2 linked regions of the Homo sapiens genome follow. The protein of the gene in region 1 purifies or fractionates together with the protein of each later gene. This does not show direct contact. Each region holds a gene or a part of one and is shown on either strand. Other genes may lie near its edges.

Region 1 (4,872 bases):
CATTTTTAATCCCTGTTTCATTCCTCCTCCCTGCAATTATTTTTTTTCTAGTACTGGTGCTGTAAGTGCTCGCAACATTATGCTGTTGAAAAAGAAACAAGCCCGCTGTCAGGGAGTAGTTTGTGCCATGAAGGTAAGTGTTAAATTTGAGAAACTTGAGTTTTCTTTGGCCACTTGAAATGTTGTACTTCAAACTCCAGCCTTTGTTTTTTTTTTTCTTTTTTATCTTACCCTTTTAAAATATTTCACTGTTAACCTCAAAAGTAGTCTCTTAAAATTCCTTGGTTGCTAATACATTATCTTCTTTAAAATTGGCTGTTTAATTGATAATATTAGGTTGTACCAAATTATATTATTGTGACTACAGTATAATTTTACAAAAATTACTGGTTTTAAGTTGTAATCATAAATTTGTACAGAGTGGTAATAATGTTCTTGGTTTTTTATTTTGCTTCAGGAGGCATTTGGCTTTATTGAAAGAGGTGATGTTGTAAAAGAGATATTCTTTCACTATAGTGAATTTAAGGGTGACTTAGAAACCTTACAGCCTGGCGATGATGTGGAATTCACAATCAAGGACAGAAATGTAAGACAGTCAGTTAACTTGATCTTTGGCCTTTTAAGATCAGAGTTGGTTTATGTTTTTAAGAAACACTTAAAATTATGTGATTCTTCCTTCCTCTGTCCCCCCACCACCTCCAACCCCTTCTGATTTAGGGTAAAGAAGTTGCAACAGATGTCAGACTATTGCCTCAAGGAACAGTCATTTTTGAAGATATCAGCATTGAACATTTTGAAGGAACTGTAACCAAAGTTATCCCAAAAGTACCCAGTAAAAACCAGGTAAATAATCTTTTTCAGGAGAGTCCTATTTCGCCTCAGTAGTAATAGAATAATATGGTGTGGTATACTGAGATTTTATCTTATTCAGTTAATATAATGTGGTAGTGGAACAACTAAGGACCTCTTGTTACGTATATTTAAACTAAAAGAGAAACCAGATTTATATATTCATAAATATGGTGTTTTTTTTTTTTTTTTTCTTTTTTTGTGACAGAGTCTCGCTCTGTCGCCAGGCTGGAGTGCAGTGGCGCGATCTCGGCTCACTGCAACCTCCGCCTCCCGGGTTTAAGCGATTCTCCTGCCTCAGCCTCCCAAGTAGCTGGGACTACAAGGGCATGCCACCACACCCAGCTAATTTTTGTATTCTTAGTAAAGACGGGGTTTCACCCTGTTGGCAAGGATGGTCTCGATCTCTTGACCTTGCGATCTGTCCACCTTGGCCTCCCAAAGTGCTGGGATTACAAGTATGAGCCACCTCGCCCAGCCAAATATGTATTTTTTTTTACTGGGTGATGAAAAAAGGCCAAAGAAGAAAATGCTAATTAAATTGGAAAGCACCTGATTGGATTAGACTGCAGTTCAGGTGTACATTTGTTCCCTCCTCTGCCCCTGCCCTACCCCTCCAGTTTGTGGGGAAGGTGAGGACACAAGTGGTGTCATTCCTGGAAAAATTCCTTAAATAAAATCTTTTGGTACCAGAGTGCTGGGTCTTAATTGCATTGTTGTAATTTTATGGTTGACTCGTGTGACCATAGACCATGAAGCTTTCACATTGGACTTATGTTGTCAACACCTTTTTTCGCTTCAGGGAACTAAGTTAAAAATAACATGGGTTTACTATGTGTTCTTCTTGTTTGACTTAGAACTAGGAAGGATGAGAAATCTCCAGCTAAAATCGTTTTTCCTTCTCATCAGAATGACCCATTGCCAGGACGCATCAAAGTTGACTTTGTGATCCCTAAAGAACTTCCCTTTGGAGACAAAGATACGAAATCCAAGGTGACCCTGCTGGAAGGTGACCATGTTAGGTTTAATATTTCAACAGACCGACGTGACAAATTAGAGCGAGCAACCAATATAGAAGTTCTGTCAAATACATTTCAGTTCACTAATGAAGCCCGAGAAATGGTAAGTGTTGGATATTACTGGATATGTATCTAATATGCGAAAGCCAATGTTATATTCAAGTTTATACTACTAAATTAAAATTTTTCTTAAGTTAAATGACCCTAATGGGCATTTACCTTGTTAAGGTGATTAAGAATCATACACATTTGAGTCAGTCTGGGTTATCTCTGGCAGTTATCTTGGAAATATATGTGAAAAAATTTTTTGAATGGAAATCTGGACAGGATTACTAAGATATTTTTAGAGTCAGTGATTCTCAGGCCCTTAATATGAAGAGTAAGAAAATTCAAGTTCATCATTGTAGAAAGTAGATTTTCCCAAACTATTTCCTAAGACATTTAATTAGTGGTTTCTGTTTTTAGGAAACACAATTCTTCCTCCAGTGTGGTCCAGGGAAGCCAAAAGATTGAACACCCATGATCTAGACACTAGATCACACATAAAATACACTAACAGCAATGATAGCTGATGAGCTTTTTTAAAAAAAAAATCATAGGCACGGTGGCTCACACCTGTAATCCCAGCACTTTGGGAGGCTGAGGCGGGTGATCACTTGAGGTCAGGAGTTCAAGACCAGCCTGGCCAACATGGTAAAACCCCGTCTCTACTAAAAATAGAAAAATTAGCCAGGTGTGACGGTGGGCACCTGTAATCCTAACTACTCAGGAGGCTGAGACAGGAGAATCGCTTGAACCTAGGAGGCAGAGGTTGCAGTAAGCCAATACCATGCCGTTGCCCTGCAACCTGGGTGACAGAGGAAGACTGTCTCAAAAAAATAATTGCAAAAACATCTCATCATGTTTTAAGAAGGTTTAACAATTTGTTGTGTTGGGCCACATTCAGAGCTGTCCTAGGCCATGGTTTGGACAAGCTTGCAATTAAACCAGAGTCAAAAAGGTTTTGTTTTGGCAGAACTTCACAAATTGTTTTTTAAGAGTTTGTGTCTGGGAGTGGCATAAACCAACCAGATTTTTTCCCAAACATGTTTTATGAACTCATTTTCTCAGACATAATTTGCATTTAGTTACGTTTGGGATCATATCATCTACACTATAACTCAGTGTTGCCAGTGGAACTGGGTACATTGAATGAAAATTTAAGTTTCTTGAGTTTTTTTTAATCCTTTGCCTTTGAAGAACTGGTTGTATTTGACACAGTGTATTTAACTTTAAAAGTTTGTAAGTCTGAATGTGTGATTTTTTTTTTTTTTTTTACATTTTCAAAGGCAAGATCTGTTTTGCTTTACGGTATGGAAAATATAACTTGGCTACTGTCAGGACTTGGCAAGGATTAAATGTCAAAATATTGTTTAGGTCATATTTAAAACTTACAGAATCACTTCTGCAGTGAGCAGATATGTAGTATGTAATACAATAGCAGATTGATAATTTGTGTTCATTGTTTCATTAAACATGAGTATCTACCATGTTCCAGGTACTCTTGATACAGTAAGCCTTACAAAGCTGATAATTTAGTAAGAAGGAAAAAAAAAAAAGAGAAAAGATTGCATATATTTTATTCTTCAGATGTAAATTTTAACTCTTTCCTGGGCCTAAACTCATGCAATTTTTGAGGTAGAGACTGGAGAAGTGCCTTTGTCTACTTTGGAATTATGGTCTGTAAATTAGTGAAGTTTCTGGAGATTATATTGTCATTAGACTTGGGCTTTTATGAAATACATTGTGTTCACGTGTTTACGTTCACATGTGGTAATTTTTTCTAGTGCATATTTGCCAGGAAGTAGCAATTGGAGAGTCTTAGAAAATTGCTCAGGTTAAGTTACTTTGTTGAAAGCAATGAGTTTGTACTTAAGTGAGAACAGTTCAAATGTGGATACAGTATTTGTGTCACATCAGAGAAAATTCCTGATGAATTTAACTTGATGGTGGTTGTAAAGTTGAATGTTGCCTTCTTGACAAGTTTCACAGCCAGTGAAAATATTATTTGGGTTTCAGGGTGTGATTGCTGCCATGAGAGATGGTTTTGGTTTCATCAAGTGTGTGGATCGTGATGTTCGTATGTTCTTCCACTTCAGTGAAATTCTGGATGGGAACCAGCTCCATATTGCAGATGAAGTAGAGTTTACTGTGGTTCCTGTGAGTTGTTTCTGAGAAAAGTTGGGAGGTGTTTCTTGATGCTTTCTTTTTCAATTGAAAGTTAATTTTGTTTTATCATTTTTAGGATATGCTCTCTGCTCAAAGAAATCATGCTATTAGGATTAAAAAACTTCCCAAGGGCACGGTTTCATTTCATTCCCATTCAGATCACCGTTTTCTGGGCACGGTAGAAAAAGAAGCCACTTTTTCCAATCCTAAAACCACTAGCCCAAATAAAGGCAAAGAGAAGGTAGGTTTTGCATAATCCAAATGATTTTTGTAGCTGTTTATTTCTCTTCTGCTTTAACAGCACATAGTAATAGAGTACATATAATCAGCGGAAGTTTGTCTCTTTCAGAATTTCTGTCATATTAACAGTGAACTAAACAAAGTAAGGTTTCTTAACCTTGGGATTATTGACATTTTGGGATGAATGATTCTTTACTGTGGGGGATGGGATGTTTAGCAGCATTTCTGGCCTCTACCCACTGGAAGTTAGTATTCTGACCCCTTTTCCCTGCCTCCCATTGTGACAGCCAAAAATGTGTCCAGACATTGCCAAATGTCCCCTGGGAGGCAAACTCATTCCAAGTAGAGAACTAGTTATATAAAATGATAGTACTGTCTTCCAGGCAATTTAAAACTTTCAAAGTTGGGTGTATCCTCAGTTCACACATTTAAATTTCATTTATTGAAAAATCCACTAAATAGGAAATAGAAAGATGTCTGAGATGAATTCTCCTTTCAAGTTAATAACAAATTGAGAGTTTTATAGAAACAAGTAATTCATATAGAATATAAAATA
Region 2 (4,872 bases), about 72 Mb from region 1:
CATACACTAATTTACAATCCTGTGGTTATAAAAACTCCAGGATTTACCATCTATATGCTCCATAACCTAAAGCAACCAGATACCAATTTCCAAGCCTTGTAGATGACTGTAAGATAATAATGTCCACTTATCTTTGTATTTCTTCTCTATTAAACACCCTTCACACCCAACAGACTCACTTCTGTTTCCCACATATTGTCTATGATTCTGCCTTCGGACAAACTGTATGTTTCCAAGGGCTAAGACTGGAGGGTAGCAAACTCAGCAACTGCAGCCCCAGGACTAGGGGGACAGGAAGGTAATACAGTGTATCCTTGAATAACTCAGTATCTATGAGGGTGGATAGAAGTTTGAGGTGCCAACCTGCTGCACAGTTGAAATCTGCCTGTAACTTTTGACTCTTCCAAAATTTAATGGCTTACTCGTGACTGGAAAGCCTTACTGGTAACATAAATCCTTAACACATTTTCTGTCTTATATGTATTATATACTGTATTCTTGCAATAAAGCTACAGAAAAGAAAATGCTAAGAAAGTTGTAAGAGAAAATACATGTACAGTACTGCACTTATCGATACGGTAAGTGTACATCTGTCTGAAAGGTAATTCCAGCTGTAGACCTCATCTATAGCACATATCGAGCAACTGAACTTTTTCTTACAATGCCATGACTTTTCTCAGCATCACTAGCGCCACTTTGCATGGGTCCCATGGTGCTATTGAAGACTTACAGTATTGCACTAAACCACAATACCTGTGTACTACAAGTTCTTTTTACTGACATGCAATTTACTGGAGAGATAAACTGTTCATGTGAAGATGATTAGCGTCACATGGCATTTTAAGGGGCTCACTGCAGTAGCAATAGGCAGTGGCTACATATTATAATAGTACAATATTACTACAGTGAATGTCGTGCAGTTATGATTTAATGCTGCCTGAATCTTTATGTTTGTTTACATTTCTCAACTGCAAATGGCTGTATTAACTTTCTAATGCATTTGTGTACATTTTATGGTAGTAAATAATAAAACAGACTAGTATCTACAACATACTCAACTTTTCCTTATTTTGGGGGATACTTCTTGGCTATGTGGTTCATCTGAAGTTTTCAGGTTGTTGCAAATCTCCAAACATTTTTCCAATATATTTATCAAAAAAAATCTGTGTGTAAGTGGACTTGTGTGGTTCAAACTCACATTGTTCACGAGTCAAACTGGATACTAGTTCTCTATCCTAGATTTCAAGAGTAAAGGATTGTACTTTGGGAGGACACAGGGAGTGGGACCTACTAGTATTCTCCAAGTCACGTATCAGTGACTTGGTGAACACGGATGACTTCTTGCCAGCTTAAGATCAATGGTTAATATAACCAGCATACAAATCTCTCCTAATGTCTCCTGCATACATGTCATTGATGTTTGTCTTTAGGGTTCCAGTTTGGAACCTTCGACATCTCTCCCTTAGCAGCACCTGCAGAAAAGTCTTTAAACCTTCCCTAGTGCCAAAACATTTTGTCAGTTATGTTACGGTCTACCCATGACTTATGTGGCTTAGCAATGGATCTACTGTGATCAAGTTAAGATCAGTGTGACTTTAACAGCCCAAGAGATTTTTGGTAATGACATCCTTCCAAAGGTTTACACTTCTATTAAGAACCACACATTTGGGAGGCTGAAGCTGGAAGATCACTTGAGCCCAGGAGTGCAAGACCCATATGGGCAACACAGAGAGACTCCACTTCAAACAACCAACAACCACACAGTAAGTACTTTACACCGCCACCTTTAAAAAAGAAAAAAAAATCACCCTTTAGAGGCCGGGCGCAGTGGCTCACACCTGTAATCCCAGCACTTTGGGAGGCCTAGGCGGGTGGATCACCTGAGGTCAGGAGCTTGAGACCAGCCTGGCCAACATGGAGAAACCCTGTTTCCACTAAAAATACAAAATTAGCCTGTGTGGTGGCGGGCGCCTGTAATCCCAGCTACTCGGGAGGCTGAGGCAGGAGAATCGCTTGAACCTGGGAGGCGGAGTTGCAGTGAGCCAAGATCGTGCCATTGCACTCCAGCCTGGGTGACAAGAGTGAAACTCCATCTCAAGAAAAATCACCCTTTAAAAAGGCAATATTCAGTCTTACCTTGCAGGCCATACAAAAAAAAAAGATTAAGGGAGATAAGGTGCAACATTCTCTCCTTTAATTCTTCACCTCCCAGTATCAGGAATTAAGCAAGTCCTTTTATTTGTATAGCTGACCTACATGCTAAACTAGAACTTTTAACAATCCCAAACTTCACAAAGTAGATAGTGAAAGGCAGAAAACTTTTCAAATCCAGGACCTAGCAAGTCAGCAGACAAGAGCCCCAGTGACATACTTGGATCATTTAAGAGTCTTTCAACGGCTAAAAATAATCACCCTAAGAAATTATCTGTAACTATGTGGACAACAACCAAATTGAAAATGGCTAGGGTCTATTTCAGAGACAGCATAAGAGCAGTTGGTGAACACTAACTCCAGAGTCAAAAAACAGTTCCAATCCTGCCACTTATCACCTATGCTTATGGGGACAAGTAACAACTCCTTTGTGCCTCAGAATGACAGTACCTACGCCTCAAAGGTTTTTAAAGATTAAGTAAATTGGCTCATTTTAAGCACTTACTATAGACCCTAGTATAAATACTTGTTAGCTGTATCTATTTTCACCAACATGTGTTGGAAGTCACCTATCAGTTATGTACATATGGAATCCCCACAAGGGAGCCCCCACCCCAAAGGGAGACTAAACCTGATAGGCGTGACTAAAGAGAGATAGCCAAACCTTTCCCTGGCTTGGTTTATTACATCTTCCTAGACCATGGGTAATAAACTCAAATGCATACACAGAGGCCAGGCGTGAAGGCTGTCGTAAAAAAAGTATACCCCACCTAAATGTGGTGACAATATGGCCAGGTGGTTTTTACTTATGTGGAAATACAGGCCCCCAAAGCCAGCTAAAGTTCAGATCTTAAAAATATAATAATCTGGATTACTTGGTGTTATCTCCTGAATTATAAATGTTAGTAATTAATCCCAATTCCTTTAAAAAATACTGTACTGTCTAATCAAAGCATCTGGGAGTAGTTTTAGCCAGAAGGTCACAAATTTGTGACCTCTGCTCCAAATTCTTTCACCTCAAAACATTAAGAATTATTAATTTAAACATTTTAAGTACTCTGGAAACAGAAAAATATTCCTATTCTGGTCACTATAAACTGTTGCCAATTCATGGTAATCTTTGGTGAATATGGATCAATACTCAACCACTAACAAAATTCAACAGTAATCTGGGGGGAGCTAATAAACCCCTCTAGTCACATTCTCCGATTATGTTTTGTAGACACAGTTCACAAAAGAATAACTCAATGAATTTCTTAGAATTTCTAGATTACACAGTCTAACAAAATAAAGCCAAAACTTCTGCTATTTTTAAAAGCTCTATGCTCATGTTACTTAGCACCTTCTTCACAATATAACCATCAGGGAGAAGCCCTTTCATGAATTAATTCTAACAAGGTTGTAACAATTCATCAGGTGGTAATTCAGGCTGGAATAAACACATTTACAATGAAATTATGTCTTTAAAGGCAGAAAATTTACATACAATATTGTAATTATAAAAATTCCTTACAATCCTAGCATATATAATCCAGCGCATCCAAAAACCCCAATTAAAAGTCGTCACAATAGTCATCCCGAACACTGCACCCTCTCCTTTATACAGAAAACAGCACGTTATGTGTCAGTCTGTCTCCCTCCCTCATAAGAGACAGGTGCCTCCAGCCAAGTCTATTTGTTCCACTACACGAACTACATATAGAACCAACTGCTAGCTTCCAAAGTGATTTCTTTTATCACATACATTTTCCTTAATTAAAGCAAATCTTCCCTGTATTTAATTGGAGTCAGATTTTACAGCATCTTATTAAAAAAGTCCCAGAATCATTAAAACCAGTTCAGAAGCATAAAGAACATTTTAACCAGTTAATTTGACAAAATAATTGAGGTTAGGATAGTCCAAACAAAGGACCATCAAAAGCCAATTCATAACTTGCCCTGGAGGATGACCAATTGAGTTGATTCCAATTCAGAATAGAGATATTCAATGAACAGTATCTCATGGACTAAATACTTAAAAAATGTAAAGATATTACTCTTATTCTGGACAAAACTGTTGATTTCAAAAAATGTCATAACCTATGCCTACTTAAAAAAAATGCAGCGAAACAAGGCACATGCTAAAACTTCTTCAACACATACAAAACCTGCAATCTATCCGCTGAAAAGGCTGCAAATTTGCACACCAGAGTTACCATTACATTGGGTCAAGGGTTAAAAGCAGTGATTTTGAAGGTATGGCCCGAAGACCATTATCATTCCTGTTAAAAATGTACCCAGACCTAATGAATCCAAGGCTCAGAAGGAGGAACTCACCACTTACATCACACCCTCCCAAGGTAAGCACACTTAAATTTGAAAACCACTGGTTTAAGGGTTAGACTAGTAACGATAATCAGAGTAAGACAGAAATACAAACTAAAACACTAGAAAGTTCAGAGAGATCAGTTAAAAAGCTATCAGTATGCCAATTATATATAAGCATTCCCTTCCTTCTTGCTAGTAAGCCATTATCAAAAAATTAATGAAAAACGTAGTTTCGGCCAGCCAGGAAAGCAAACAGTATATAACAAGATGGAAAATCCTAAGATTTTGGAAGAAACAAAATATTTTCCCACAATTGCAAAAGTAGAGAATAGATCACCAAATGCTTATCTCTTACTCTGAGTGTTTCCACAATACTCTATGATTGATTAATGAACAGTTTTTCATCAGGCAATG

What was found.
Region 2: the proteins of CSDE1 (region 1) and YBX1 purify together in Homo sapiens (co-immunoprecipitation; 3 studies listed by BioGRID and IntAct, with this or other methods). This does not show direct contact.

What each region holds. Positions count from the first base shown.
Region 1 is NC_000001.11:114,729,703-114,734,574, reverse strand, and holds part of CSDE1 (cold shock domain-containing protein E1), read left to right. Parts: intron 1-51; coding exon 52-133; intron 134-457; coding exon 458-586; intron 587-717; coding exon 718-843; intron 844-1,758; coding exon 1,759-1,971; intron 1,972-3,926; coding exon 3,927-4,067; intron 4,068-4,152; coding exon 4,153-4,317; intron 4,318-4,872. UniProt on the Homo sapiens protein: RNA-binding protein involved in translationally coupled mRNA turnover.
Region 2 is NC_000001.11:42,684,526-42,689,397, reverse strand, and holds part of YBX1 (Y-box-binding protein 1), read right to left. Parts: intron 1-4,872. UniProt on the Homo sapiens protein: DNA- and RNA-binding protein involved in various processes, such as translational repression, RNA stabilization, mRNA splicing, DNA repair and transcription regulation.